Linked DNA regions of Homo sapiens: regions 2 and 3 are each linked to region 1. Evidence: fine-mapped expression QTL. A gene starts in region 1. Each other region holds a variant in brackets. All regions are shown on one strand. Distances are from middle to middle.

Region 1 (10,282 bases):
GGGCTGACATCCAACTTGGTTCTCTTTATTGTGCAACCAACGGCTTAGAGCCTACATCGGAGGGAGAGAGAAGGTAGGGCAAGACAAAAGTCAGCACTTTTTTGGAAATAATGAAGTGGAAGTTATTTGTATTAAGGATATTCTTTCTCTGACAACCTCCTTTTCACCCAGTTGATGAAAGAGGGATCCCCCTTTGTAAATTATACGAGATGATCAAACACACAAGACTGGACAGATGAGATTTACAGCAGTTTGTTAGTCACACATACTCATAGCCCAGGGGAGGAGGCTACCACATGCCATGCAGGGCCATACAGGGGAGGAGGGGCTTCATTTGGGAGCAGAGTGAACCTGCAGGAGTTGTGGGAGGCAAGCTTTGTAGTAACAAGAAGATGGTGTGTTGTGGGGAGGACCCCTTGGTTCCCACAGGAGGATGTGATTATCTTGTTGGACTAATTGCTCTGAAGGGAGGTGAAAGCCATTAGGTTGAAGACAGGGTGGGATGGAGCTGGTCCAGCTAAGGGAGGTAGCCAGCAAGCAAGACTTTCCATCTGGGTGGGGGGCATATCTGGCCAGAGCAGGAGAACTCATGACTAGGGACCTGTGAGGCTCAAAGATGTCAAGGCAGTTCGTGGGATTTTAGTGCTTGCAAAACAGTTCTCCTAGTTAAAAGCTTAGTGGAGGTAGGAAGTAGGAGCAGGTAGTACCTTGGCCAGCCCCACGTCAGTGAGGTACTATCAGGCCATCGTTGAAGCCAATGCAGAGCTCTGGACCACTATAACCAAGGTGTTCAGCAGGTTGTCCACATGGATAGCTGTGAGTACCAGAGTTTATATTTATATGATAGGTTGAGTTCAAGGGGCCACAAACCAGGTGTCTGGCTTTTCAGGCAGGCGAGTGTAGTGACTAAAGGGGTACAAAAGTTATGAAGCCTGGCTTGCATTTGGGCTCTTATCAGGATTTCTGGAAGGTTATTTAATCTCTTTGTACTTCAGTTTTCTCAGTAGTATAATAGTAACTGTCTCATGGAATGGTTGAAATGTTAAATGAGATAATATCTGTAAGTGCTTAATAAATCTTAGCTCTTGTCATTGACTGGGTATAAAAGTTACCCAAATCAGCTTCTGAGGGTAAACTAATTAGTGGCCAGTCTTAGCCTAAAAGAATAGTCAGGGTTGAAGACTCTGTGATATCATTAAATCACCTAAACCACACTGGAGGTTTTCTTTCTTTCTTTTTTTTTGTGAGATGGAGTCTCACTCTGTCCCCCAGGCTGGAGTCCTGTGGCACGATCTGGGCTCACTGCAATCTCTGCCTCCTGGGTTCAAGCGATTCTCCTGCCTCAGCCTCTTGAGTAGCTGGGATTACAGGCATGGGCCACCACACCCACCTAATTTTCATATTTTTAGTAGAGATGGAGTTTCACCATGTTGGCCAGATGCTCTCGATCTCCTGACCTCGTGATCCACCCGCCTCAGCCTCCCAAAGTGCTGGGATTACAGGCGTGAACCACCGCACCCGGCCGAGGTTTTTTATTTCTCTTTACAAGGTCCTAAGTTGACAAACTATAAACATATAAACAGTTACATAGAAAGTATCAGGGAAGTTTTGGATTTAGAATATTACTAAGCTGTATTTTAAATAATGACCATTTAAGGATTCTCCTATCCAAGGGTATTGGTATTTTGAAAGCAAAGCGCAATGCCTATTATATAAAAGACATTCAATACATTTTTTAAATACATTTTGTAAAATAAGGCATTATAACTATCAAATTATGGACAGTTTTCCCTAGCTTCATTTGTAATGTTTACCAGTAAATTGAATAAAAGGCTAGTTATGGTATAATTTGCAGAGGTTGCTCTAGAATGTTCTTATAAAAGGGATCGTGGCATTGTGTTCTGGGTGGAACTAGAAAACTTGTCTTGAAGCTTGGTAGCTTCAGTAGCAGGCATACTGTTGCCTTGCGTGGTGGGCTTAGGGATGCTAATAGGACAAGATGCCCTTCCAGGCCACATGCTGGCTCATCCACTTTGCTAGCAGTTATGGATAAGAGGTAGAAGGAAAATATATTTATTTTTTGTTAATGGGGATATTTTATACAGACTAAATATATTCTTGTTAGTTCCTATGGCATTTCTATAAATGACCTCCCACCTGTTTTGTTAACTTATAAAATCACTGAGAAAACTTGCTTGTGTGTCTCTTTAAACTCCTGTTAAGCCTAGAATAGCGGTTAAAAAAATTGTATGTTTTCAACCAATATGTATTAGTCAATTAGCTTTTACTGAACCATCAATACTCAGTTGTGTTTATGATTTTTATCCTTGCAAGACACACCGTTTTAGAGATTCCAGTTAATGGGATAGATGGTAATTTAAGGATCTTTTTGATGCTAAGAGTCTAAGATGATCAAATCTATCAAGGAGAGATCTTGGTAACAATAAAGATGTTTTAGAAAAACTTGGGAATTTATTAGCCTTATATAGAGATACACATAATTCCAGTAGAATACAGTTATATAGATAGAAATTATGCATATTTACTAGTAAAAAATCTGCTAAATGAATAAACAGCCCTTGGTGTTGCTGCCCAAAGGCCTTTGGTGAAACCTGATGGGTTTTTCTGTACCACAGAATAGTCAAGGAGAGCCTCTGGAGAAGAGCATGCGGTCTGGATTTGGAAGCCTCAGTTTGATTTCTGGCTTTGTCACTTACCTTAGGCATTCAGTAAGTCACTTCACCTCTGTGTTCCTGTTTCCTCATCTGTAAAACAATGATAATAGTAGTAACTACTTTATAAGGTTGTTATAAAGATTACATGAGTGAATTCATTTCCATAAAATACTTAGAATATTATCTGGCCCATAAGCACTATATACATTCTCATGGTTTTTCTTGTTTCTTTTCATAGATATAGGTGGCTTCCAGACAATCTTTCCATACTTGGTGGTTAGAGCAGAAGAGATTCATGAAGAGCACTGCCCTTTGAAACAAAATCTCATATTCAGAAAACTGATGCCAAACACCAAGTAGCATGATTTCACTCTGAAGCAGTGTTTCAGCCATTGCCCTGGAATGGTTTTAAAGCAAGTGATATACTGCTGAAAGTGCTGCCTTTGATATTAAATGTTCATTAAAAATCTTCACTAAGACATAAAGTTTTTCACTACTATCTCTTGGTAAGGGTTCAAATTTGAGATGAAATTCCTTAAAGTGGTTAAAGCATTCATTGTCCCCTCTGCCTGATGCTTTTAACTAGTTTATTTTACAGAAGGAGTACTCTCTTCAAGTGGCTGTAGATTGAGACACTCTTACAGGCTTAGTTGTTGAGTCAACCACATTTAAAAAATGCACCTGCCCTTTGGTTTATGGTGCGTAATGCATTCCTCTCATAAACTGTAAATTGACAAAATTCCTTTGCCATTTTAAAATTGCTTAAAGTATTTATTTTTCTATATTCCTTGTAAGGAACTCCCCTGAGCACTCTTAACTTAATTGCTCTCTGAAAAATATTTTAAAGAAATTCCAGAAGTGGTAAAGCTCAGAGGAGCCCCACAAATACAAAGTGCTGAAGTAAAATATGATGCTAAATGGTGATAAGAGACTTAAAACTAGATTTCATTGTGATAAGAATGTGATAAAGTTTGATTGTAATTCTTATACCTCCTTTCAGAAAATCATGTTATAGAAAAATGTTCCTAAGCAGTAAAACAAAGCCATTTTAAAAAATAACTTCTCATGTGCACTCTTTAACAACCTAAGTGTTATGAAGTCTCTCAATTGAGATCTTTAACCGTAAATAGTTTTTGCCTTTTGTATTATGTCCAGATCCTATTTAATGCAATTAGAATACAAATTCCTATGTACTGAGGACCTTGATTACATAGATGAGATATTTCTTAGTTCCAGTTGGTGTTTCTCATCTCTTGTCTTCTCTGACCCTATTTATACATTCTCTGTTTTTATCAGATGATTCTTCCCCAGAACGGACTGGGAGAGCGAGGTCCGGGTTTCCTTCTATTTATTTGCATCGATGTCGCTCCGAGTCTTCAGCACTGGGCCGCGTATGACAGCATCTTAGTGGGTGCGGAGCGGGACAGCGCGCCGGGGGCGTGGCAGGGGCGTGGCCTGTCCGCGGGGCGGGGAGTGCGGGGCGGGGCTTCCGCGGAGCGCAGCGAGCGGGCACATCCCAGGTTAGCTGCTGCGAGCCGAGCCGGGCGGCGGAGGCGGCGGCGGCGGCGGCAGTGGCGGCAGTGGCGGCAGTGGCGGCAGCGGCAGCAGTTGCAGCAGTGGTGGCCAGAGCGGATGCTTGCGGGCTCCCTGCGGCTCCACTAGTTTTCTTCGCCCCGCCCAGCCGCCCACTCTTCTCGGCTAGGGAAGAAGACCAGAGGGTGCTCAGCTGGAAAACTCTGGTGTCTCAGCTTAGGGCCTCCTCCGGGAAGAGCTAACTGCTCCCAGGTGAAGCCGGTGCCCGCGGGCGGTCCGTACACCCCGCAGCCGGCTCGCACCGCTCGAGAGCCTCGGCCGCTGTGTCTTCCACGTCTGCAGCTCAGCCAGGGCGCGCAGGGCGAGTGGGGTCCACTGGCGGGTAAAGGGGACCAGGACGGCGAGGATGGACGCACAGACCTGGCCCGTGGGCTTTCGCTGCCTCCTCCTTCTGGCCCTGGTTGGGTCCGCCCGCAGCGAGGGCGTGCAGACCTGCGAAGAAGTTCGGAAACTTTTCCAGTGGCGGCTGCTGGGAGCTGTCAGGGGGCTGCCGGATTCGCCGCGGGCAGGTAAGGGGCAATGAGGGGGTCTCTGGACTGGCGGCGTCCGAGCCCGGCCTTCGCTCCCCCAGGCTCCCTTGGTGGCACTCGTGGGAAGATGACCTTTCGGGCCCTGCAGCCGCGCAGGGTGAATCCCGGGGAGGCTTCCGGGGATGCTTGGTGCGGGTAGCCTGAGTGCAGCGCAGCGCAGCTCTGGGGACCCCTAACCAAGCCTGCGACGAATCCCCGTTCTGGGCATCTGCTTCCCGCCCGGCTCCCTTCGTCTTGGAGGATGAGTTGGAAGGAACCAGGAAAGCAGACATCAGGGCGTGGGGGACACGCAGTCTAACTCCGTTTCTCTTCCGAGTAGGAATTTCCCCAGTGCCCCACCGGGGATTTCGGTTTACTGCTTTCTCATAAGGTGGAGGGAATTGAATTGATCGCCCCAAGTTTGGTACTAAAAATCACAAACCTGCGATATACCCCTTTGCTGGAGAATGGGGCACAGACAAGGGCAGCCGGTCTCCTCTGTAATTAGGACTTGGACCCTGTGCACCCAGAGACGTGACCCTTAGCTGCCCTTCTGTGCCCTCGTATCAAGCCCTGCTTGGAGGAAACCCAACCACCCAGTGTGTCTCCCAGCACCAAGGTAGTTTTTAGCCTGAAAAGTGTTAGGGCAACAGGCGATCAAACCGAACGTACTGGGGAGTCACTTGACATGGATGAGATGTACCAGCGTTCCAAAGGGAAAGATACAGTTTGTGTGGCCAGCGTGGATCTTGCTTCCTGTGAGCGCCTTTTGCCTGTGCTTTCGAACCCTGCTCCCCGTTTCCACCGCACCAATTTCCTTCTGCTGGTGGGAGTTCCAGTGTAGGTTCTGTCTGGAAGAATAGGTCATAGCTGTCAAACGCAATAGCAGGTGTCTAGAGCTAAGTAAGATCTCACTAGAGCCATGCACCCCTTTAGCTGTGACTATGAAGCCAACACAGACGAATCTGTGAGGTTACTGGTTGAACAAAGAACTTGTGGAGGACGCTTAAGTCTAAAGTCCCGAGTTTCCAGGGTTGGGGGACTTGCTTGTAGCAATGAGGAAGTGTGAGCTGTAGCCGCTTTTCTTGATTGCTTTGCTCAATTTTAAGTCATCCCAGAAAGAAAATCTAGGCATTCGGGAACACTGACTCCATTTGAGTTTACATGACCAGTCTTAAACCCAGCTATTTCTTTGTATACCTGTTTGGTACTAGGTGCTTTTTCTGTATTACTTGAAACAAAGTTGACATTCTCAGTTTAGGGCGATTCTTCTATCCCCAAATAAAATATCGCCTTATAGATCTGTATTTTTCTTAGTGCATTCTTTTCATTAGGAAATAAATCTCACTTTATTGGCTGCTGATAAAACTAAAGTGAGTTTGTGCGTGTGGGTGGTGAGGGTGTTATGATGTGAGATCTTTACCTGAATTATTAGATTTTTAGTCCCCAAATATGGTAACTTTGCCTGCTATGTTCACCGAATGTTGATGGCCAGCCCCTTCTCCCCAGTAAGGCCCTGATTTCACTCCACTCTGGTATCTCAGTATTTCTGGTATCTGCTGAATGCAACACATTGATTGGGTGTTCATCTCTTTTAAAGATGAACTTTCCAGAGTATCAGTCACTGAGACAGTGTCTTACCAGGATGTCAGGGAAAACTAAAGCTCTGTCCTAAGGAGAGGGAAATGACTGTAATTATTTGCATTTGATACACATGACACACAAAAAAGTTCCATGACGACAAGGAATCTTTCTTTTCTAAGTCACTCTGGATTGTTTCCCCATTGCTAGTAGATTTTTTAAATCTGTGGCTGAAGGTGATGGAGGAATCACGGGAGCACTCACAGAAGAGGCTTAGAGACATCAGTGGTACTGGTGAAAAGAAATGCTAAGTTCCTTTAATATTTTCACTAAGAAAAAGTCACACAAAAGTGCTATGCTGATTTAGATCCACCCCCCAAAAAAGGCATTCATATAGGAATTTGATATAATTCTGAAGTTTTGTGTCTGTATTGTTGGTCATTCTTTTACAAATAATTCAGCAAAATATTAAACTTTTTTAAACACTGATTCCTCTCATCTCTCTAAAAAAAAAAACCCCTCAATCCCAAATTGAGTAAACCAAACATACCACATGCTTAATAAATAATTTTCTTTCTTTTTGTATTTATATATGATCTACAACATTTAACATGATTGAATATGGTAATTGACTATCATATTTTCTAAGATTATCCTCAATCTCAAGAGAGAACATAATTTAGTCATTTCTCCATGAGAATACAAATAGTAATATCTTTTAACAAATCTATTCATTTAGCACATACCCTTTCACTGACTAAAACAAACACATTTAATTTGATTTTGTTTTTGGAAGTACGTATTTTTACTGCTTTCTTGCATTTCTTGTTCACAGTGGTTAATCCCTGAGATGTCTAGCCAAAACACAGTTTGTATAATATAAGCAGGTAGAATAAGTTTTTAGTTTCTTCCTACCTTTGTGACTTTTACTTTTTCTGATAAAAATGTTATCCAAATTGAAATTATTAAAATTGTGAGAGCAGTGATTTAAACTGTTTCTCAGATTCCCCTCACCTTTGTTCTCTACCCTGCTCCAATTCTTTTAAGCCTATTGAGCTCCTAAGGATGTTTGGATGAGAAATGTAAAAAAGGAGAGAAGGTGTAAATGTGATTAGAATTAGAGATTTCCCTGTGTTCCGATTTTATTTTCTAAGTAGTAGTCAAGGTGCCCTTTGCTCTTGTTTATTTTATTCAGAAAAGAACTGTTACTGAAAGTGTCTTTTAAAGGTCTTTTCATTTTTATTTTATTTATTGGGGATGGGGATAATGCTTTTCTATTAAAATTCTCTTTGCACATGCATTGTGCATTGTTCACACATGCAGTAGTTCCTCTTTTAGAGGGTAGTTCAGAAAGGGGAAGTTCATAAAAAATAATACATTTAGATAATTTATATACCAACTATTTTTTGAAATATGCATGTTTGTTGATATAGAAATCTATAGCAAGTATACTCTCGATATCAAGTAGTCTGTGAAAGTAACTTTTCCTTGGTAGATTTTGGCTATAAATAGAGTAATAAAAATAAACTCTTGACATGGCTAAGTGAAATTTTAATACTAAAAGACACTGTAAGCAGTGCTCTGAAGTTGTTGTTGTTTTTTAAACTGCTTTCATTATAATCAAATCTTATTATTGCTCCAAGGACAGTGTAGTTTCATTCTCACACCTAAGAAAAATGATCTGCTTGGTAACCTTGGAGTTTGGATTTACTGGATAGACATTTGGCTTTCAAAACTTGGTTCTACCACTTGTAGTTCTGCTTCATAGACAAATTATCATCTTGAACCTCTGTTTTCTCATTTAGAAATAGGAATATTCTTAAAAAGTGTTTGCATAGATAAAATGAAATAATGTAAAATGTCACAAATCCAGGCACATAGTAAGTGCTGAAAATATGTTCTTGTTGTCATTATAATTTTTTTGTTTACTGTCTTGATTTTAACTTGATTTTTAAGGATGACATTTTAATTTTAGATCTTTATATATCAAAGATGTTTTTACAATAATGAGTTGGTTTCAAGTCAGAAATGATTATTTTTAAATTTGGGAAATGTATTTTTATCTAAAGTGATATCCGTTACATTATGGTGAATATTTTGTTTATTTTTGTGAACTAATAAACCTCTATGAAACAAGGCTGCGCTGCTGCTAGCTGCAATGCCCATAACCACTGTCTCCACTGCCACACCACCGTTCTTCTGTCTGTAGGGAGGTAAAATAGTGCTTCTAAGGTGGTTTACAGATTCACACAATTAGAATGTTGGTGGCCATAGTCACTCATGGACAGTAATCTGAAATTGCGACTCTATTTCTCATGAAACCAATTTTGCTGTTTGAACAACGTGTTTGTGGGGATCAAATTTCCAAAGCCAGAATTGGGACCCGTCGTCTGACATTGGGGCAGATGATTAACATCAGGATTGCCCTGGGTCGAAGCCCACCAGCCAGGAACCACTGGAAACAAGATTGTAGTAAAATTAGATTCATTTTGTTTGTTGCAGCAAGGGAGATTGCACACCAAAGGGACTCTGGAGAGTTTGGTAGTAGGTAGTTGGGAGGGCTTTTTATAGGATTTGGGCTTGTGGTGGGCTATTATTATAAGGAAGGTTTAATGAAGTGGGGCAATTCAGGAATTGGCTATTTTGGTAACTTTTATCTAGGTGTTAGAAAGATTAAGGTGGGGTAGTTGTCATAAATAAAGAAGCAGTAGTAGCTAGTGCTGGTTAAAAGAGGGGAATGTTTAGTTATTTTTGTGGTTGCAGAGTGCCTTTGTCCTCATCCTTTTATACCACAGGTCCCAAGTGGTCTTGCCTCATCATTGTTTTCTAATTCTGTGCATGTTATTTATCTTGAATTGTGAGCATCAAGGCCCAGTTCCACTTCCAGGACAGTTTGTCACCTTTTCCCTTGGGAAGTCCAGTCTGTGCTTTGATGTCTAAGAGAATCACGTGTTTCATTTTTCTCTAGGCCTTTAGTGCATCTTAATGGTGGAGAAGTGAGTTTGATTTTCTACTTTAGGGTCATAGAATCCAATGGCTCATCAGGTGCTGAACTATACTGATCACACATATTCCCTCATGGGGTTAATTATAACTATTGCTGTCAACTATAAATCTAGTGCATCAACTACAAATATTATATATGTCCCCATTCTCTCTCCATCCCATAATTTAAGTTCCATTTTGCCGAGTGTCCAACATCCTATAGTTGTAAAATTGGCTTAGGAGGGGTACAACTTGAGGAATTTAAGAATAATATTTTCCACTTATCACCCCCCAATCCCTATTATTTTTCCTTGTTTCCAGCCTGTTAAGGCTTTCCGGAAGATGGGTATTTTTGGTGTGTACATGTATGTGTGTGTGTATAATCCACTTTCACATTGTCCTTATATTTGATAAGAACACTTTCTAAATCTACCACATTTCTTTTATAGTTACCTGGTAAGACCAAGAACAACATTCTAGCTAGGTGCCTCAACTAAACAGACATAATTTATAGATGAATGGTCTCTTGGTATAACTGTTCAACCGACAAACAACAGATCTGATTTGTTAAAATGGAGTCATGAGAGACTTGAAACATATGTCTGTTGAAATATATTCTCTGTGAATGTGGTATCTGATCTACTTGGTTAAGTAACAATAGCAATTAATTTTAATAGATAATAGCCATTTTCCATATCTACCTTTCTTTTATAAAGTCCTGACCTTCAACTAGAAGAAAAGGCAGCACTGATTGTGCTCTCAATTCTTGAACTTTTCAGTTTTAGTAAATCTTCCATTTCACTAATGAGATTGCCCAAATTATCCTAAAATGATTATTCATTCCTCTGTGAATCACCACAAACAGCACAGCCCTTGATTAGTTGCATCAGGGCCACATATGGCTACTATGTAAGTTGAATGTGCAGTGTACCTTTATAG
Region 2 (10,282 bases), 170 kb after region 1:
GGGATTACAGGCATGAGCCACCACGCCTGGCCAAGGACCATTATTTCTTATGTATCTTGCTAGTTCTTAAGGAAATAAGATTACTGAAAAAGTAAGCAGTTTGTTCTTAAAAATAACCCAGAAACTTTCTTACAAGACTTCTGTGAATAGGACCAAGTATTTGAGAGCTCTGTTCTGGAAACAAACTTGTCTCTAAACCATCTTTAATTTTAAAATGAAGGATCCATATTAAAAATTTTTGTTAGAAATATGTATAATTGTGCATCGTAGAGAAAAAATGAGTTTTGCCATTTAAAGTAATTTTACATATTATCTTTTTTATTTTTAAACTATCATTTACTATCCTGAATTATGCTTAGGTTTATTACTATTGGCACAAAACAATAATAGCTAACAATAAATTCTATTGTCAAGTTCTGTTAAATCTCTTGTTTTAAATTTTACTCTGTGCTAAAAATCGCAAGTAACAAGTTTAAAATTACAAAAATTGGCACATTATTATATATAATTTATTCATGGAGACTATATTTAGAAAATTCTAAATCAGCCTATTAGGTCCTGGTTATACAGATTCACATACACAAACATATGCACCTGCACAGATATGGACCGCCTGCTAATTAATGTTCAAACATATAAGAAAAAATAATATCGGGAATTATGATTTGCTGTTCCGTGTAGTAGCAATTAAAAAAAATTCTGAATCAGACACTTGCACAAGCCAGAAAATGAAAACGGTTTTAGATTTCCAGAAACATTTTTGATGCTGACATACATTTCATATCTTAGACATCTTTCAGGGTTGATAGTTATAATCAAGATTGCATATTTAATTAAATGAAACTATTAGCAACTTCACAGAAGTTTAAGCAGTATACTATGTTATAAATAGAACGACTTAATTGCTATTCATTTCTTTAGTCATGACACAAATAATTATGGGAAATTGCCATAATGAAGAATGTACATACACATGCTCTTTGATATCTACATGTGAAATCAGGGTGGGACTAAGCTGTGTAATCCTTATTTCTGTTGATAATACCAGCGAAGTTCTTTGCCTCCCTTCCCTCCTCAGGCTTTTCCCTTCACTCTGACCAATTCCTTCCTCAATGTTGCTGCCAGCCTCCTCTCGGAGGACCCTCTTCTCTCTGACCATTTCCTTCCTCAATGTTGCTGCCAGCCTCCTCCCGGAGGACCGGGGAGGAGGGTCTTACTAGTGTTCCAGCTGGATTCTCTCATCATGACTCCTGCCTAGTGCCTCTGTAACTAGAGTTGGAAGTGAGTGTTTCGCCTTGGTGTCCCACTCTTGACCCAACCAACTCCTCTTTTGGGCTTCAACAAAGCTGTCTTATTCTTGGCACCCTATCTAGGAATCTGGACAAAGTTCCACATGTTGGATTCAAAAACCATTTCAGTGACAGCACCCAATGCCTTGCTAACACGAAACATGTGTCCTTTTGGTGCTTTTTATCTTTGAATGAATTTGGCCACCTGCCCCCTTACCATCATCTTCGTGGTGATTTCTTCTTTTAGGAGAAGATTTTCTCTTTAAGTGACAATATATTAATACAATGCCAAATATGATCTATACCATAACTCCTTAACTGGTGGATCATGTCCCACTGGTATGTCATAAAGAGGTAACAAGTCAGCTACCATCTTAATCAATTCAGCCCTTGGGACAACTTGGCAAGATCTGGGTACAAACAGCCTCGTCTCTTTAATTCTGTATAAAAGTTTGGTACTGTATTGTTTTGGGGCTTTATACTTTCTGCCATTTCAAGTAGCATCCTTGGGATACAGACAGATATGAATAATGTAGATAACGATTTAGCAATCCAAGAAAATAATTGGCAGAAATGAGTGAATTTTAATGTATTTGCAAAGCAATCTCATGAGCATGTAACTCAGAACAGCATGTGGCAGAATAAATCGCCTGCAGACTGTTTTCTAATCTCTGTCATCTTAATGGAATAGCAAATTTGCTTATAGGTATCCCTGAGATATGGGTGTAAATGGAGATAAATGATATATTTGAATTTTTTTCCAGGTATCAAATATGGGCTTTTGCAGTCTAAAAATTATCAGGCATATTATCGATTTTTGTTTAGTCTTTAAGTGATTTACAAGTCTTTTCAATATGTCGCCTTCAAATTATACTGTATAGTAACACAAACAAAATTCAAATATTCATATTTTATAAATTAAATAAAATAATTCAAGGTCATAAACTAATGGCTGACTTTTCTAGGTCATGGTTAGTTATATGATTTTTAAATATTTATATTTCTGTGGCTTTTTTTTGGGGGGGGGTCGGTGGGACAGAGTCTCGCTCTGTCACCCAGGCTGGAGTGTAGTGGCGTGATCTTGGCTCATTGCAACTTCTACCTCCTGGGTTCAAGCAATTCTCCTGCCTCAGCCTCCCAAGTAGCTGGGATTATAGGCATGCACCACCACGCCTGGCTAAGTTTTGTATTTTTAGTAGAGATGGGATTTCACCATGTTGGCCAGGCTGGTCTTGAACTCCTGATCTCCGGTTATCTGCCCACCTCTGCCTCCCAAAGTGTTGGGATTGCAGACATGAGCCACTGTGCCTGGCCAAATATTTATATTTCAGTGAAAAATTAGAGTTTATACTGCTTCAACAATGTACAGTTGTTAGAAAAAATTTGGAGTTTATACTGCTTAAGCAATGCACAGTTGTTAGAGAAAGTTTGGAATTTATACTGCTTAAGCGATGTACAGTTGTTAGGCAGACATCGGATAATATTTGCTTAACTTATTGGCCCAGAACAAAAGGCAGTAAATAAGTAAGGGAGCAGTTTGGGGAAGAGGCTGTTATTGGCAGGGAATCCTAGGCAAGATCCAGGAAATATTGAAGTGGAAGAGACTATTAATGTTAAAATTAACCAGACATGTACTTACAGCCATGGTTGTTTGTCCTAGGCGTTGCGCCTGGCACACTAATGCTGAACAAATGTAACCGACTATTAGTTATATTATTAATGAGCATTATCTATATATTTTGAAAGACTTTATTCATTTCCTAGAACTGCCATAACAAATATACACAAATAAGTTGGCTTAAAACAACAGAAATTTATTCTTTCATGATTCTGGAGGCAGAAGTCTGAAATCCAGGTGTCTGTGGGGTTGGTTACTTCTGGAGGCTCTGAGGATGACTCTATTCCATGTTTCTCTTCAAGCTCTTCGTGGCTGGTGGCACTTTTTGGTGTTCCTTATCTTGTAGACCCATGATTTCAATTTGTGCTGCTGTCTTCAAATTGCCGTTTCCTTTGTGTTTGTCTTTTCTTTTAATTATAAGGACACTTGTTACTGGATTTAGGGCCCACACAGTAATCCAGCATCATCTCGTCTCAAGATCCTCAATGTAATTACATGTGCAAAGACCTTTTTCCCACACACGGTCACATGTGTAGGCTTCAAGTGGACATATCTTTGTGCGTGGGGGTCACCAATCTACTACAGCCTCAAAATGTATTAAAGTCAGTTCTGAGTTTCTTAGGAAACTATGTCTAAAATATTTACTTAAATGAGAATGAGTTGAATCATTTATCAAAAATGCAAATTTCTGGCCGGGCGCGGTGGCTTATGTCTGTAATCCCAGCACTTTGGGAGGCTGAAGTGGGCAGATCACGAGGTCAAGAGATCGAGACCATTCTGGCCAAGATGGTGAAACCCTGTTTCTACTAAAATACAAAAAATTAGCCGGGCGTGGTGGTGCACGCCAGTAGTACCAGCTACTTAAGAGGCTGAGCAGGGGAATCACTTGAACCCAGGAGGCAGAGGTTGCAGTGAGCTGAAATCATGACACTGCACTCCAGCCTGGCAACAGAGCAAGACTCTGTCTCAAAAACAAAAACAAAAAAATTTCTGAACTATTTCCCAGATATCTGATTGAGTAGTTGAATGGCTAGTATGTGAGTATTCAGCAAGCACCACAGGTATTTCTGATATAGGTAATCCTTACATAAATTTTTGAGAAACATAGCAGACTAATATTTGAGGTGGCTGAATAAAATATTTTTCTCAAACTTCACTTTAGTAAAAGGAAAAGCACATCATATCTATATGAAATTATATTTTAATACTTTTCAAAAGGGATTTAAGAGGTTTTTAATTTTGAAAACTGATTAGTCAACCAAAATGTTGAGTAAATATTCATCAAAATAAACCATTTGAAAGATTATATTACAAAATTAATTATTTTTCTTCCAATTCTTTTTTTTTTTTTTTGAGAAAGCAAAATAAAACTTGAAAGCATTTAGCAGTGACTGGGAAAGAAAAGGCAAATGCATTAGAGTACAGAATTTGGGACTGTCTCTATTTTGCCTGTTTCCATTGGCTCCCATCATCATGCTTTTATTTCAGATCTTGTCCTGTATTTGGATCTTTCTCAGGGCCAGCCTTGTCCCATAAGCATGTGACTCCATTTCTACAGACTGAATAGTTCAAATATCAGAATTAAAGTCATTTAAAGGAACCTGGAGATTTCTTTATTTTTAGGAGTGGTTCAACGTGGTATATATGAAGGAAGCTGCATGTGTATTTGTGTATGTGTGCCTGTGCGTATGAGTATGCAGGTGTAGTATGATGTGTTTTAAAAGCAGATATTCTTATCTTTTGTTTAGATGTTCTCTACACTTAGTGTATTTCTAGGTCCTCCATGTTGCTAATTGAAAATGGTGTTTTTAACTAAAAAAAGGGGGATTAACACAGAGGTCAAAGGTTATAGCATTTCTGGGAAATAAATAATTGCAACTCAGGTACACTGAATCAGGGCAGCCCTGAATAGTGTTCTGTATGCCAAGCTCAGGAGAGGTTTTTTAATAGAGATTTCCACACAAGTTGTTTTCAGAAGCAGTTATTTGGCTGGGCAGAAATCTGAAATCACAAACCCATTCTGATTGGTTAGTTAATTAGGATACTGCCAGCTGAGGGATATTGAAGGCTGGAGGATACAGACTTTAGTTGTTTGTCGAAGTCTGTTGGAACATTCTGTGGTTTGACCTTCAGCAGGGGTAACTGCAGTCCTCTCCCAATCTCCCAACTCCACTTTAGAAAGCCTTAGTCTTAGTTACTTAATTTTCTTTTGTTCGGTTATAGGTGCTGATATGATTTGGCTCTGTGTCCCCACCCAAATCTCATCTTAAATTGTAATCCCCGCATGTGGCGGAACAGACCTGTAATCCCCACTTGTGGAGGGAGTGAGCTGATAGGATAATGGGGGCAGTTTCTCCCATGCTGTTCTTGTGACAGTGAGTGAGTTCTCACGAGATCTGATGGTTTTATAAGTGTTTGACAGCTTTTCCTTCACATGCTAACACACTCTCCTGCCACCTTGTGAAGAAGGTGCCTGCTTCCTCTTCTGCCATGATTGTACATTTCCTGAGGTCCCACTAGCCATGTGGAAGTAGTTTACTTTATAAACCTCCTTTGTTTATAAATTACCCAGCCTCAGATAGTATGTTTATAGCACTGTGAGAATGGACTAATGCAGATGCCTATTAATGCCTTGCTTCTCAAAGTGTGATCTATGACTGGCAGCATTGTCATGACATGGGAATTTATTAGAAATGCAGAATCTTTGCCCTCATCCAGAACTACTGAATCTGAATCTATATTTTAGCTAACTTCCCTAAGGTATTCCTAGGCTCATTAAAGTTTGAGAACTGAACAAACTTATAAAATGCTTCAGTAGATCAGCAGTTGCTTTTAATATAGGAG[G/A]CAATCTTTATAAGGGTTTCTAGGATATGATCCTTAGTGTGCAGCTGGGTCTGTAGGAAGATTTATATCTACAAATTCCTGAGTTGTACATCACATTGCTAGGGAAAAAGTAGAGCTTTTATTGAAAAAAAAAAAGGCATGAAAGTTTAGTGTTTTTTTCTTGTATGAAGACGGGTCCTTAGAATTTTTCAAATATTTTGTCTTTAAAATTGTCTAGGTTTGTTAATGATCAATATAAATTGGAAGGCCACCAGTACTTATCTTAAAATAGGCTTTCCATAGCAAATCATGTACCATATGTTATTTCTTTTTCTTTCTTTCTTTTTTTTTTTTTTCAGAAGGAGTCTCTCTCTGTCGCTGGAGTGCAGTGGTGCAATCTGAGCTCACTGCAACCTCCACCCCCAGGGTTGTAACAATTCTTCTACCTCAGCCTCCTGAGTAGCTGGGATTACAGGTGTCTGCCATCACACCCAACTAATTTTATTGTATTTGTAGTAGAAACAGGGTTTTACCATGCTGGCCAGGCTGGTCTTAAACTCTTGACTTCAGGTGATCCACCTGCCTCAGCCTCTCAAAGTGTCGGGATCAGAGGCATGAGCTACTGCTCCTGGCTGTTATCTCTTTTTTAATGTAAGATGTGTCCATGAAGTGTTATAACATGTAAAATACACACTGTAAACTGTATTAAAAATTAGTACAGTTGAAAGCTGAGGCAAGATAGAAAGAAATTGAACAACAGACCAAGGAGATATAAAATTTTAGGATATGAAAGTGTCACTTGAAATTAGTGAGGAAAGATATTTTGTTCAATAAATGATATTGGGCCACCTATCTAAACATTTATGAAAAAGTGGATTTTTAAAATATCATACCCAAGATAAGTTCTAGGTCAGTGTTTCTAAATATTGTTTTTGTCATTGGCTGCAACAAGTCATATAAAATATATATGTTTCTCCTAATTCATCCTCTCTCTCTGTAATTTTAAAAATACAGATATACTCTACATCAGTTTCTGTACTATGGCCCTTTGGAGCGTCGTTAACAATTTTAATATATAACATTTTTGTTCTCCCTAGCCTCAACAATTTTGCCCCATTGGAGGTGGTATAACCCCCAATGAGAATGCATGTTCAAGAATCTAGAAGAAGTAGAGTTTTAAATGTAACAAAATAATTGCTATAATTTGAATGATGGCATCCTTTCCAAAATTCGTATTGTAGCTTAATCCTCATTTTGGTAGTATTACGAGGTGAGGCCTGTTGGGAAGTGATTAAGTCAAGAGTACCTCTCCCTTCATGAATGGATTAGTGCCTTGTAAAATGGCTAAAGGGAGCTAGCTTAGGCCAATTTTCCTTCTACCTTGCACTATGTGAGGACACCTTGACAGTGCCTTCTATAAGGAATGGGTCCTCAGGAGACACTGAACCAGCTGGCTTCTTGATCTTGAACTTCCCCGCCTTCAGAAATGTGAGAAATAAGTTTCTGTTTTTTATAAATTACCCATTCTCATGTATTTTGTTACAGCAGGACAAATGGACGAAGATAATAATGAAAGAATAAGATAACAATTTAAGTGAAGGTTTGTAATTTTAGAGTGATTAAGTCCCTTCGGAAAAAATGATTAAACAGAAAATGCATAAAAGATATACTCATATATTAAGCTACATATTTTGAAAATCTATTGAACTATAAAAGTCGCCATAAACAAACTTTTAAAATTTTGTGTCTATGTCCATCCCGACAAATAGACATCAGAAAGTTAATGTTTTTTTCTTATTGAGATTATGCATTTAAAAATTTTCAGACATGCATTTTCCACAGTGAGCATCACAACAGGTTGAACATCCCAGATCCAAAAATCCAAAATCCAAAATTCTCCTAAATCTGAAACTTTTTGAGCACTAACATGACATTCAAAGGAAATGTTCCTTGGCATATTTTGGATTTTGAAGTTTTGGATTTGAGATGCTCAACTGGTATATCTGAAAAAAGGTTCAAATTCCCAAAGCACTTGTGTTCCAAAGGATTTTGGTTAGGGATACTCAACCTGTATTATACTTAGAAAATATTTAAAATTATAGCTTTTTAATGGGTGCCTATGATTATGTTATTTAATCCACTTACCTATCTTACAAGGATCTTGCTATATTTTCCACTAGATATTTGAGAATATATGCTTTCGAGCAATTACCCAAATTCCTTTAGTTAGTAAATGTTAGAGCTTGAATTTGAATCTCAGAATCCAAGTGTTTAAAGTTCCTGTAATGTATGATTTTTCTCTGTGCTATGTTTTAAAAATTAGAGCCATCGGTGATTTCCAAACTCATCAACCAAAATTTTGTAATTGTTTTGCTTCTAATTTAGATGTAGTTTGATTGGCCCATTGATGGGATGCATACACTTTATAAACTTGGGACTCAGAATTTTGGGAAAGTCAAGTTTCTTAGTCAAATTGTCTTAATTAGAAAAGTACATAACTCTTTAATTAGTTTCTTTTATGCATAAAGTCAATAATCTATTAAAAATCATAGCTTGCCTCAGTAGTTTTTTGTTTTCCTGGTTGATTTCTGCTGTATCTCCCTTGTCTGATAGTTCAGTCTGTATGCAGTATTCAAAATTCTTGTTGTATTTGGCTTTATTTTTAATGCTTCTGGTCTTTGCACTCCTCACAGATAAATATTTTATACAACATTAATGGTCCTTCTTGTATAGTAAGTCAGAGTTTATTTTACCTCCAGAGTCAATATCAACTTTTAATTAATAATTTGTATGCAAGTATAAGTAATGCCTTTCTCCTGTATTTGGAGATAAACATTTCTGATTTTAACTCTTTGCTAATTCCTTGAAATGTTTCAGATAGAGGAAAAATGATTTTTTAGAATCTTTTCTGTTTTGTCCACTTGCTGAGAAATGGGAAGGGGAAAAGATCTGGTCATTAACAGAGAATGTACTGCATATTTTTTGTTTTCATCCTATTTTAAACTTTTTGTCTTGCCAAGTAAGGATGCCTCAAACTGACAAGCACAGTAACAATTATGAAAATTTTATGTGTAAAAATATATATTGTGAGTAGGTCAGGAGTTCAAGACCAGCCTGGCCAACATGGTGAAACCCCATCTCCACTAAAAATACAAAAAAGTAGCTGGGTGTGGTGGCACACACCTGTAGTCCTAGCTACTCAGGAGGCTGAGGCAGGAGAATCACTTGAGCCCAGGAGGTGGAAATTGCAGTGAGCCAAGATGGTGCCCCTTCACTCCAGCCTACATGACAGAGCAAGACTCTGTCTCAAATATATATATATGTATATATACACACATATACATGTGTATGTGTATATACACACACATATACGTGTGTGTATATATACACACACATACGTGTGTGTATATATACACATATACTTGTGTGTATATACACATATACGTGTGTGTATATATACACACATATACGTGTGTATATACACATATTGTATATATACACATATTGTATATATACACACATGTATATACATATACACACATATATGTATATATGTGTATATATGTATATATGTGTATATGTGTATATATGCATATATGCATATACGTGTGTATATATGTGTATATACACACATATGTATATATACATGTATATACACACATATGTATATGTACATGTGTGTGTATATACACACATGTATATATACGTGTGTATATACACATATGTATATATACGTGTGTATACACACACATATGTATATATACGTGTGTATACACACACATATGTATATATACGTGTATATATATACACATATGTATATACATGTGTATATATATACACATATGTATATACATGTGTATATATGTATGTGTATATGTGTATATTTCACTATAAAGTAGAATAAAATAACTTCGAGTTAAAGGACAGTCTGTATCTGTTCGTTTTGTGTTGTTACAAGGGAATATCTGAGACAGGGTGATCTATAAAGAAAAAAGGTTTATTTGCTTCACAGCTCTGCAGACTATAAGAAGTGTAGTGCCAGCATCTGCTTCTGGTGTGGCCTCAGGAAGCTTATAATCATGGCTGACAGCAAAGGGGGAGCCATTGTATCACATGGTGAGAGAGAGTGAGCAAGAGAGGGGAGGAGGTGCCAGGCTCTTTAAACAACCAGCTCTCAGATGAACTAACAGAGCAAGAATGAAATCATGACCATGGGGAGGGAGGGCACCAAGCTATTCACGAGGGATCTGCCCCCATGACTCAACACCATCCACTAGGCCTCACCTCAAACATTGAGGGGTCACATTTCAACATGAGATTTGGAGTGGACAAACCTTCAAACCATATCACAGTCCTTCCCAAAAAAAGATAGTCATAACCTTATACCAGCAGAAATTTTACTTCTAACACAAAGTTTAAATATTCAACCTATTCTAATTCTTATGGTGTGCTTATTTCCTGATCCTTTTGTCAATCTGGGACTTACATTCACTCCCAATTATTTGTTTTTATTATAATTGTCCCAAATCCATGGTCACAAAGGCATACCGGA
Region 3 (10,282 bases), 49 kb after region 1:
TCTTCTTTATCATGTCTGTATCTCCGTTTTTCCACACTAAAGATCCGGATTTTCAAGAATACAGGATGGAATTAGAGGATAGAATTAGAACATTCCAAAATTGCTTATTTGTTTATCCCATATTAGACTCACAACAATTTCAGATGACATAAAATACAGTTTTTAGTATTTATCCTGTTTTTTTTCTTCAGGGGCTTACATGATCAATATCTCACTTTGGTATTTGTTGTCACTATCTTTCAAATTCCTTCATTCTTTTTGATTTTTCAAAATTTTTATTTTTCATTTTCTGTTTCTCTTAAGGCATTACGTTTGTGTGATTGGCTCTTGTGTTCCTTCTAGTAAGGCTTCATTTAGAATTATTTTCTTTTATCTTTAATTTTTATCCTGAGTACTATCACCTCATATCTGAGTTTTAAAATTCTGACATATGTTGTTCTTTCATGTTTTGTGTCATTGTCTTTCAGCTTGTTTTGAAATAGTATGGCTAAGTTTTTGATCTTTTTTGGAGGGAGCATATCATTCCAGCATATTTTTTCTTGTCTGTGGGATATTATTCTGTTTCTTATTCTCTTTTTTATTATAGTAACTCTGAGTATCGACCTCAATATTTTTGTTGTTCATTTTATATGAAGTTAGTGTTTGTTTTTCTGAACATTTTTATTGAGACAGGCTTCAGCATAGCTTCTGTAACATTGCAGAGCTTCCTCTTCTGTTAATTTTGTGTAGTGTTTAAAAATATGGCAGCTCATTTTATGTTATTTTCTGGATTTATTTTCCTTTGCACTTTGGGCTAGACTTTCTCTATGTGTCTTGAATCCCTGTTCTGTTGAATTTTGATTTCACTTACAGCATTTCTCTTCTGTGTGTGGTTCTGTCCTGGAAAGGAGCCCTGCTGAACCTGTTTGATTGTTTACTGGGGTGGGGACTGCTCTTGTTCCTTCTTTTCTATCATGGGTCGATAGAACACATTTAATGATTGAGGGGGCAAAATTCTCCCAGTTTCAGCTGCTGTAGGAGCCCCGCTTTACTTGTAGGGGATATGTTTCAAGACCCACAGTAGATCCCCGAAGCATCAGATAGAACCAAACCCAACTGCTGTCAGTCAGAACATGTTTCTGTTCATGTCTTCCACCCACAAATTGAATGCCTTTTCCATCTTAACTAAGGACTTACGTGCTGTGGCTATAACTTTTCAGTTTGAGTTGCGATGGCAAAACTAGCACAAATTATTTTTCCCTTCTTCACGGTTTCATGGATAGAAGATTCATTCTTATGTAGATCTTAGTAAACTCAGCATATCGTTATTTTTTCTTTTCTTAACTGACTTTCACCTTTTCACTTAAGCGAAGCACTTTGGGCAAATCCAGATTGCTAGTATTATTACTCTTGTGCTTTGGAGCCATTTTGAAGTAAAATAAAGGTTACTTGAACACATACACTGCCATACCAGGACAGTGTCCTCTTGACTACCAGGAGGGCTAGAAAGTGGCTAACTGGTGGGACGCATAGACAGCGGAGATCTCCTGGACAAAGGGGTGATCGACACCCCAGGTGGGATGAATCAGGAAGGCATGAGATTTCATTGTGCTACTCAGAACAGCAAGCAATTTAAGCCTTATCAGTTTGTTTATTTGTTTGTTTGTTTTGAGACAGAATCTTGCTCTGTCCCCCAGACTCGAGGGCAGTGGCACGATCTCGGCTCACAGCAACCTTCATCTCCCAGCTACAAGTGATTCTCCTGCCTCAGTCTCCTGAGTAGCTGGGATTATGGGTACATGCCACCATGCCCAGCTAATTTTTGTAGTTTTAGTAGAGATGGGGTTTTGCCATGTTGGCCAGGCTGGTCTCGAACTCCTGACCTCAAGTGATCTGCTCACCTTGGCCTCCCAAAGTGCTGGGATTACAGGCATGAGCCACCATGCCCAAGCAAAATCTTATAAGATTTTTGGTTCTGGAATTTCCCATTTAATATTTTCAGACTGTGACTGTGGGGAACTGGAAGCATAGAAAGTGGAACCATGGTTAAATGGGGAGCTACTGTATTCTCAAGTGGGTCGCTGTGCTTTCCTGTCACTCCTGCTCACTATTTTGGGGTTCTCCTGATCTCAGATCCTTCAGACATTCCTCTGTTGCATCTTTCTTCTACCCTGTGCCCTGCTCTGTTACTGTGAAGATCTTGTGCCTATTCCTGGTTTCTCCCCATTCTGTTTGTATTTTAAAGTTTGTGGGGATATCATGTCATCTAATTTTGTTTTTGTTTTTTGGGGGTTTGTTTTCTAGTTCCATCTGGTTTTATGTGGAGATTTGGAGATAGTGAAAACTATGCTGCCACTGCCACCATATTTCCAGAATACCTCCTGATGTTCCTATTTAACATATTGAAAATATACAGGCATGTAGATATCTGTAAATTTCTTATGCTAGAGAATGGAAAGGAAGACGTATTAACCACTACTGCTGCTTCTGGGTGAGAATTCAGAAACATCCCCACAATTCTGGTTGAAGTCTCCTTCATTGAGGCACATTACTGTTTTATTTTTGGTTTTGTTTTAGTACTCTGTTTCTTTTGGAGTTTGATTTTACTGTTTAGAAACATGACTGTCACTCCAGAGCCTGGGTTGTGTACTCTTGCTGTCTCATAGAATTCTAGGATCATGCCATGTTCCTCGAAGCCAGGCATTGAAATCTTCAGATACCTCTAGTTACCATGCATAATAGTATCTGGGTTCACTCTAGCTTTGTTTTCTTATGATGCCTGTTCTATTTACAATAGGAGCCTGGGCTTTATATCACCCAAACATCTTATTATGCCCTTTGTGCTGATACTGTGAACAAAATGTAAGAGATAGCTCTTTCCCTGAGGATTTTGTTCATCTTGTCTGTCTTTTGGATTGATATAGTAACTTAGGGAACACATTTCCTGTCAACTCTTTTCCCTTTTCACTGTGACCCAACTCTAAATTATTTAAGCTTATCTTATAGGCGATACTGATGGAAATGTGCCAAGGAGAGATAAGTCAATCTTTGAGGGTTTGCTGCATGCGCGCATGAGAACAGGTAGGGTAAGTGTGTCTGAGACAGAGAAGAGACCATGGAAAATGGTTCTGTGACAAGAGAGAGCTTGGTGAACACAGAGAGCTGAAATAAGGCCAGAGTGTGATGGGAAGAGTACAAAGGCCAATGTTTCCGGAGATGAGACTGGAGAGGGAGGGAGGAAAGGAAGGATCACAACTTGGAGGCCTTCACAGGCCATGTTTAGGAATTGGTCTAACACAACAGTGTTATATATTTAAATTCCAAAGAGATATTTGCTATGATCTGCTGTTATTGTTCTTTTTATTCCTCAGCAGTCTTTCCTACACTAAATATGTTTATATACTTTAATATTTATTCGTTAGTTCTTTTCCTCAATCTCTATTATTGCTTTTCTCTGGATGCTAATTCCTCAATCCTTCAATTTAGGAATAAAGCTGAGAAGATAGCTTTTTTTTTTTTTTCAAATAATTTTACTGTTTGAAGTAGAATTTGCTCTTACGTAACTTTAGGTAAGATAAGTGAAAAACGATTGCCAAAATGTTACCTACTGTGACACTTACGAATATTTTATGCTTCTTAGCCTTTGTAAAGTGTCAAAATTCTGTCATTTGTTATTTGTCTGACTTAAACTACAGCCAAAATCGTTAGAGATTTTGGTGTCCCATGTTGATAGGAAGCTCAGAGTGGTTTCATATATTTTCAGCTGACCCAGAACCAACTTTTGGAAATTTGAGACCTGAGGCCAACTCTGTGTGGAAAAAGTAGGAAGGGCTTGAAAGGTGGTTGTTATGTGCATGCGTCTTGTGTGTATGTCTGTGTGCATGCACCTATTTTACTGATCTAAAATTAGTTGATGAAGAACTAATGTGGAACCTGTGAAACTCACAGAGATTAAGGGCCACAATTCTTCTTGTTATTCTAAAGTAAGGAAATAACCGTATTAGGCCATTATGTAAATAAAATTGTCCTGAGCTTTACTTATAATCTAGTAGCCTTGGAATGCCCTGGGGCTCACATCAGCTCTCTCCATCAGGGTTTCCTCTTTGGGCACTAACTCTTTGTGCTCCACATCTTTCCTCTCTGTCCTCTAGCATATCTGCTGTGCATAAAGGTGCTTGTCCTGGGTCCCTACCAGGATGAAAGTTTAGTGATACTAGCAAAGGTTTTTTTGTAACCATAACTCTTACATTTCATATATTAATAACTTTACATTTCATGCAATATACATCTTCACAGGATCCTTCTAAACATGATTGTACAACTAAAAAGTGCTTTTAAAGGAGGGGATTGTCTCTCGCCAGCTATATAGTGAGTGGAATCTTGGATGCTGAGCTTGGGCCCATGGGGGCCTTGATCTCCCAGCATGTCATTATTGCAGAGATAGCCTACTTCACAAGCAGCACGAGCCTGATGGCAGCTGAGAAATCAGGTCAAGTTTTTTGACCTTTATGTGATGTTCAAAATTCAGTTTCATTTCCCCATGAAAAGCAATTCTTTTAGTCCACATAATTATCTATAACATATTTCTTTCAAGCAATTTTGGCTGAATTGATAAAATAAGCAAAAAACCCACAAAAAACCTTTTTCTTGATTGAGCGCTGTACTTCATAGTAGTTAATTTGCTTTCTATTGAGTGGAGATACTTAATATTTGACCAAGAAGTTAATATAATATTTGAGCAAAGAGTTAATGGTTTAGAATATTTTGTTTATGATTGTGTTAATGAGCAATAGATAAACTTTCTTATAGCAAGTACTCTAGCAAATCCATTCCTCACATAGTCCTTTGTGTGCAGGACTGGTCATAACGCCTGATATATAATATGTAATACTTGTTAAATGAACAGGTAATCATTCTGAAAAATGTTGTGTGTTCCAGGACCTGATCTTCAGGTTTGCATATCCAAAAAGCCTACATGTTGCACCAGGAAGATGGAGGAGAGATATCAGATTGCGGCTCGCCAGGATATGCAGCAGTTTCTTCAAACGTCCAGCTCTACATTAAAGTTTCTAATATCTCGAAATGCGGCTGCTTTTCAAGGTAAGTGGATCTTGAATTCTGCAACTAAGGACTGGCCGTGTTATGTAATTTGCCTAAGATAGTTACGTTGGCAAACTTGGCTGGGTTTATTTCCTTGTATTTACATAATATTCGGGTATAAAATGAGGTTTTAACTTTTTCTAGCCTTCAAAACTTGTTTCTGAGGTCATTGTGGGAGTATATACTGAGTTGGATTGGGGAAACTGAGTTGGACTGTTATGTTAGTGAAATGATCGTTGGAAATATATACTGCTATAGGGTTCTTCCAGGTCTGCCAACATTCTGACTCATAGCTGTACTTTAATATGAACAGACATAATTATTAGATTTCATGGAAAAGTTCTATAACATAAAATCTCATTGCTTTTTACTGGGTAATTATAGATTTATCTACTAAAAATTTTTTTTGGATGTCTCATAATTTTATTTTATATAAAATTTTACTTTAAATTCTGAGATACATGTGCAGAACATGCAGGTTTGTTACATAGGTATACATGTGCCATGGTGGTTTGCTGCACCCATCAGCCCGTCATCTAGGTTTTGAGCCCTGCATGCATTAGGTATTTGTCCTAATGCTCTCCCTCCCCTTGCGTCCCGACCCCGCAACAGGCCCCTGTTATTTGAAGAAATACTCTTTAAATTTCCTTGCTCTAATCTCATATGGTTTTCATAAGAACAC[C/T]AGTGGAATATATCAAAGTGCAAGCAAGTCTGATAAATAGTAAAACAGGAAATGTTAATTGGATGTTTAAGGGTCATTTAAGACCAGAACTCAACCTTAATTCAAGCAATATGTTCAGATATAAAATTAATAGGTTATAAAATTACAAGGCACACTGAAAAATACATGATGTTTTTCTTATTTTAGTCATCTCTTCTGTAAAATTCCTTATTACTACAATAAAATAGCTTAATTTATTTTTCTTCTTATAAAGCATTAGCTATTCTGTATATGACTAGAATGAAAATATCTAGATTATACAGCTTTTCAAATTATTACCTTTGGTCAATGCAGAATATAACTTCTGTTAGTATTCCTTTTAAATAAGTACATTAATGTCAATCTATTTGAATAATTTGCTTGGTGTACATATATAAGTAAATCACAGAGCTCTTTAATTTTTAAAATGATAGTTATTAAATAAAATAAATGCAATAAATCAGAATAAAATTTAAGTTAAAGTGTAGTTCATGATGAATTAATGCTTTTTTGTAGAAAGCGTGAAATGTCAGATTTTAAGGTTTTATAAATTTAGCTGCTTTTTTAGATGCCTTACAAAACAACTTTATTTCTATTGTAGGATTTATTCATGTGAAATTGTTGGAGGAAAATTTACTGATATACATTTTAAACCAAGATTTGTGATTTAGCTGAGTTAGAAGCCGTTAACCATCTACAGAAAATTATATTTTCTTCCAATGAAAAGGATAGTAGGTACAATATGAAATATACATTTTGGAGGCCACGCAGTGGATATATCAGTCTGAGCAGAATGGAGTTTGTGATAGGTGGTCATATGCTTAAAAAGGTGGACTGGATTCATATTGAATCTTGGATATGTGATCAAGATAGAGCACATTACGTTCAAAGGGTTAGGAAACCTGGAATATTTAGACTTTTAAGATGGATTGAGGCTGGTGAAAAGTTTTGGTGATACTGCTAAAAGTTTAGTGATAACCATCTCAGTAGTAGAAATATATGTTAAGGAGATCGTCTCTATTGAAGTGTCAGCTAATTTTATGTAAACCTTTGTTTTCTGTTTACTAAATTTTATCTGCTTTATTCATTAGGTTGAGTTTTGCTATTTAAAAATTAATTATAAAAAATATAGAGACATTCTTAAATATGATTTTTTAATAATAAATTATAATTTCTTCCTTAGTAGATGTCAAGTTTTATTTAAGAAGCTCAAGGGAAGACAAATTTAAAAGAAATTTGCCTAAAGGCTAACTTTTCTGGAACCAAATTCACTTATAAGAATACCCACTTTTATTGAATTGAATAAGTAGCTTTAGGCTTATTTCCTTAAAAACAAGCTTAAATATATATGCCAAAAGCAGTACAAGAGATCACTTTGCTGTACCATAAGTGAGCAGGCTACCTTATCATTAAGTAAAATGCCCTCCATCTAATTTCTGTGCAATTAAAATATCTGAAAACAATATAAAGTCTTTATAAGAAGGAAGCAGCCAACACATTTTTTTTGGGAAACGTCTACTTGAGAGAAATTTGATAGAGAAATCAATTAACTTCTCAAATGATGTTAAGTAGATGTGCTACATTTTGATTTTTTAGTTTTCAAATAGTTCATTTATATTTCCTAGTTCAACAATATTAATCTGTTTTCCGAGTTATATTGTAGGTTATAAAAGACATTGGACTGGGATGTAGTATGGTCTCTTTCCTCATGGACCTTATGTGACCCCACGGAAACATATTTTTTAGAGCAAACTTTTGAATACAGCCAGTGAGGATGATCACTTGGGTCTGGGGATTTAGCAGAGGGCACACTATTGTTAGATGAAGGCTGGGAGGTTAAAAATGCATGAGGGAGAGAGGAAGCCATGCTGACAGCTGTTGTTAGAAGAGACCTAAGATTATCCTATGTGAAACTCACACTGGGCTCTGTAGTCCACTGCCTATGTATATTCCATTTAGGCTAGAATTAGCCTCTAGGACAACTCTTCTGTTTGTTTGTTTTTTTTTTTCCCCGAGGTGGAGTCTTGTTCTGTCACCCAGGCTAGAGTGCGGTGGCATGATCTTTGCTCACTGCAACCTCTGCCTCCCAGGTTGAAGTGATTCTCTTGCCTCAGCCTCCCGAGCAGCTGGGATTACAGATGTGTGCCACCATGCCCAGCTAATTTTTGTATTTTTAGTAGAGACGGGGTTTCAACATGTTGACCAGGCTGGTCTTGAACTTCTGACCTCATGATCTACCCACCTCGCCCTCCCAAAGTGCTGGTATTACAGGTGTGAGCCACCATGCCCAGCCCACATTTTCTTAAAATGAACAAAACAGACAAAAATCTGCTTTTATTTATTATTTATTTTCATTTTTTCTATTATTTTTAATTTATGAGACAGGGTCTCACTCTGTTGCCCAGTCCAAAGTGCAATGGTGTGATCACATGGCTCACTGCAGCCTCAACTTGCCAGGCTAAAGTGTTTCTCCTACTACAGCCTCCCGAGTAGCTAGGACTACAGGCTCATGACACCTTGCCTGGCTAATTTTTGATATTTTATAGAGATAGGGTTTTGCCCTGTTGCCCCATCTGGTCTTGAACTCCTGAGCTCAACTCATCCACCTACTTTGGTCTTCCGAAGTGCTGGGATTATAGGCATAAGCCACCATGCCTGGCCAAAAATCTGTTTTTAGAAGGACTCATGATTATGACCTGGGACTTCACTATATTCTAAGGGCAATCATCCATGAAGTATTTTATAGGGCAGAAAAAGAAAACTGCTACCCTTATGTCAGTTGCTGTTCATAAATAAGTAGTGCTGTTTGCAAGGAGGAATGTTGGCTTTGTCACAGTGCAAACAATAACTGTTCTTCATTTTCAGGGGCTTAGTAATGTTCATGAATAAAGCAGAACAGCCCAGGATAATACAAGAGTTTGTTTCCCATTGGTGGTTTTGCTATAAGATTTTCTGCTTTAAAAATATTTTGGAAATATTTGTTATAAATATTTTGTTTCTTTATACATGACAGTATGGTGTGATGCATGGAGAAATAGGGGAAATTGATGGAGAGTCATCTTCTGTAAAAAACAACTCTTATCCAGCTTATATATTTTTCAATTTTTAAATCTCTGTTTAAATAAAATAATGAAATTTAGTTTTTTAATTTGTAACTATGCAAAAATTTCAACATGACTTTCAAAAAATAAAAAATAATATTTTAGAGGACACTATTGGAAGCTTGTGTTTTGTGTTAATATTTGGAAGATAAGGTTAAAATGTTATATCTTTCCTTAGAAATGAACCTTTTCTTATTTCTTTCAACTTCATTATGCTCATATATTTCTAAAATATATGGTGGATACTAAGTCTTTATTCTGGAAAATTTCCAGTTATATATATAACTGGAAATGCATTATTCTAAAAAAATGTTATTGCTAGAGTCTAAGTGACATTTAGAACAAAAATTATTTAACTTTTTTTTGATTTCATCTCTTGGCTAATTATATTTTGATTCCTTGATTATATGTTTTTGAAAGATTGGCAAGCCTGTCCTCTGGGGTTGAAATGTTAGATTCAGGAATTTATTAAAAAATGATTGCTATTTTTAATGAAATGTAGGAATATGCTTGAAATTAAATATATTTAAAAAGCAGGTGAATTGAGAATATGAATATAACTTACGGATTTTTATCCTTTATGCTAACAGATACTGGTTACTGTAAAGTGTATAGCTATCGTATAGCTGCTACTGTAAAACTAAAGTATATATGTATATATATAGCAAAAGACACAGGATATAGTTAATATTCAAATATATTAATGAATATGAAGACAAATAGATTTATATAAATGTTACAATATCAAGCATAGAGCACATTAATCTTATTTAAGTCACTTCAGCTATACTTTACAGAAATGGACTATATTTAAAATTTTTCCTAGGAAGAATAAAGGCGTATTGCTATTTTTAACATTAAGAATTACTTGATCAAGATTAAGAGAACAGGCAGCCTAGGCTGGTAGTGTTGGGGAGACTTATTTCTATGTGTAGCACTGAGAGCAGATATACAGCAAATGTAAGTAAATTAACTATATGAATAAAGGAATGAATGAATGAATGGTACTTAGCAAGAAAATGGTTCAGAAATAAAATGAGAGATTCATTTCCTCTCTCCTCCCTCCCTCCTCCTTCTTCCTTTCTTTTATTCCTCTGTTGATGCATTTAATATATCTTTTGAGCACCTACTGGGTGCCAGCATCATTAGGTACTTAGATTGTACACAGTGTCAAAATGTTAAATCCATTATACTTTTACTGGATCATTCAGACTCCTAATATGCCGACATATTTATTAGTTTATTAATTTCTAAACTATAAAGGGGCACATGATAGTGTTTATGTCAGTGGCATGCTGAATGGGATTGCATTCTTTTCCTTGTTCAGTTTTAGGCAGTGCATGGTTTAGTGTGTTATCTAATACAGCAGCTATCAGTGCAATTGGTCTTTATTCAACTGTCC

Direction of the effects. Positions count from the first base shown, and alleles are read on the strand shown. Sizes are in standard deviations (SD) of each study's normalised expression. Not every link is listed here.
In carriers of allele G in region 2, the expression in tibial nerve of the gene that starts at base 4,189 in region 1 tends to be higher than with A alone (moderate effect, 0.45 SD a copy in GTEx).

The links. PIP is the estimated chance that this variant, and not a neighbour inherited with it, causes the effect.
Region 2: its variant is the best candidate, but not a certain one, in a credible set for the expression of GPC5 in tibial nerve (GTEx, PIP 0.73).
Region 3: its variant is the best candidate, but not a certain one, in a credible set for the expression of GPC5 in lung (GTEx, PIP 0.65).

What each region holds. Positions count from the first base shown.
Region 1 is chr13:91,394,433-91,404,714 of GRCh38, forward strand. GPC5 (glypican 5) reads left to right here and starts at 4,189. Exons shown (of 8, transcript NM_004466.6): 1 at 4,189-4,777. The coding sequence starts at 4,615. It overlaps LOC124903189 (a long non-coding RNA gene), which reads left to right and starts at 2,445. Exons shown (of 2, transcript XR_007063831.1): 1 at 2,445-2,729; 2 at 2,914-3,156. RefSeq lists silencers at 4,003-4,297, 4,004-4,273.
Region 2 is chr13:91,562,687-91,572,968 of GRCh38, forward strand. All of the region lies in intron 2 of GPC5 (glypican 5), which reads left to right. Among named protein-coding and RNA genes, the nearest start is that of GPC5, 170 kb to the left of the region's middle. The variant G/A (reference allele first, on the strand shown) is at 5,752.
Region 3 is chr13:91,443,844-91,454,125 of GRCh38, forward strand. It overlaps GPC5 (glypican 5), which reads left to right. Exons shown (of 8, transcript NM_004466.6): 2 at 4,918-5,079. Among named protein-coding and RNA genes, the nearest start is that of GPC5, 50 kb to the left of the region's middle. The variant C/T (reference allele first, on the strand shown) is at 5,762.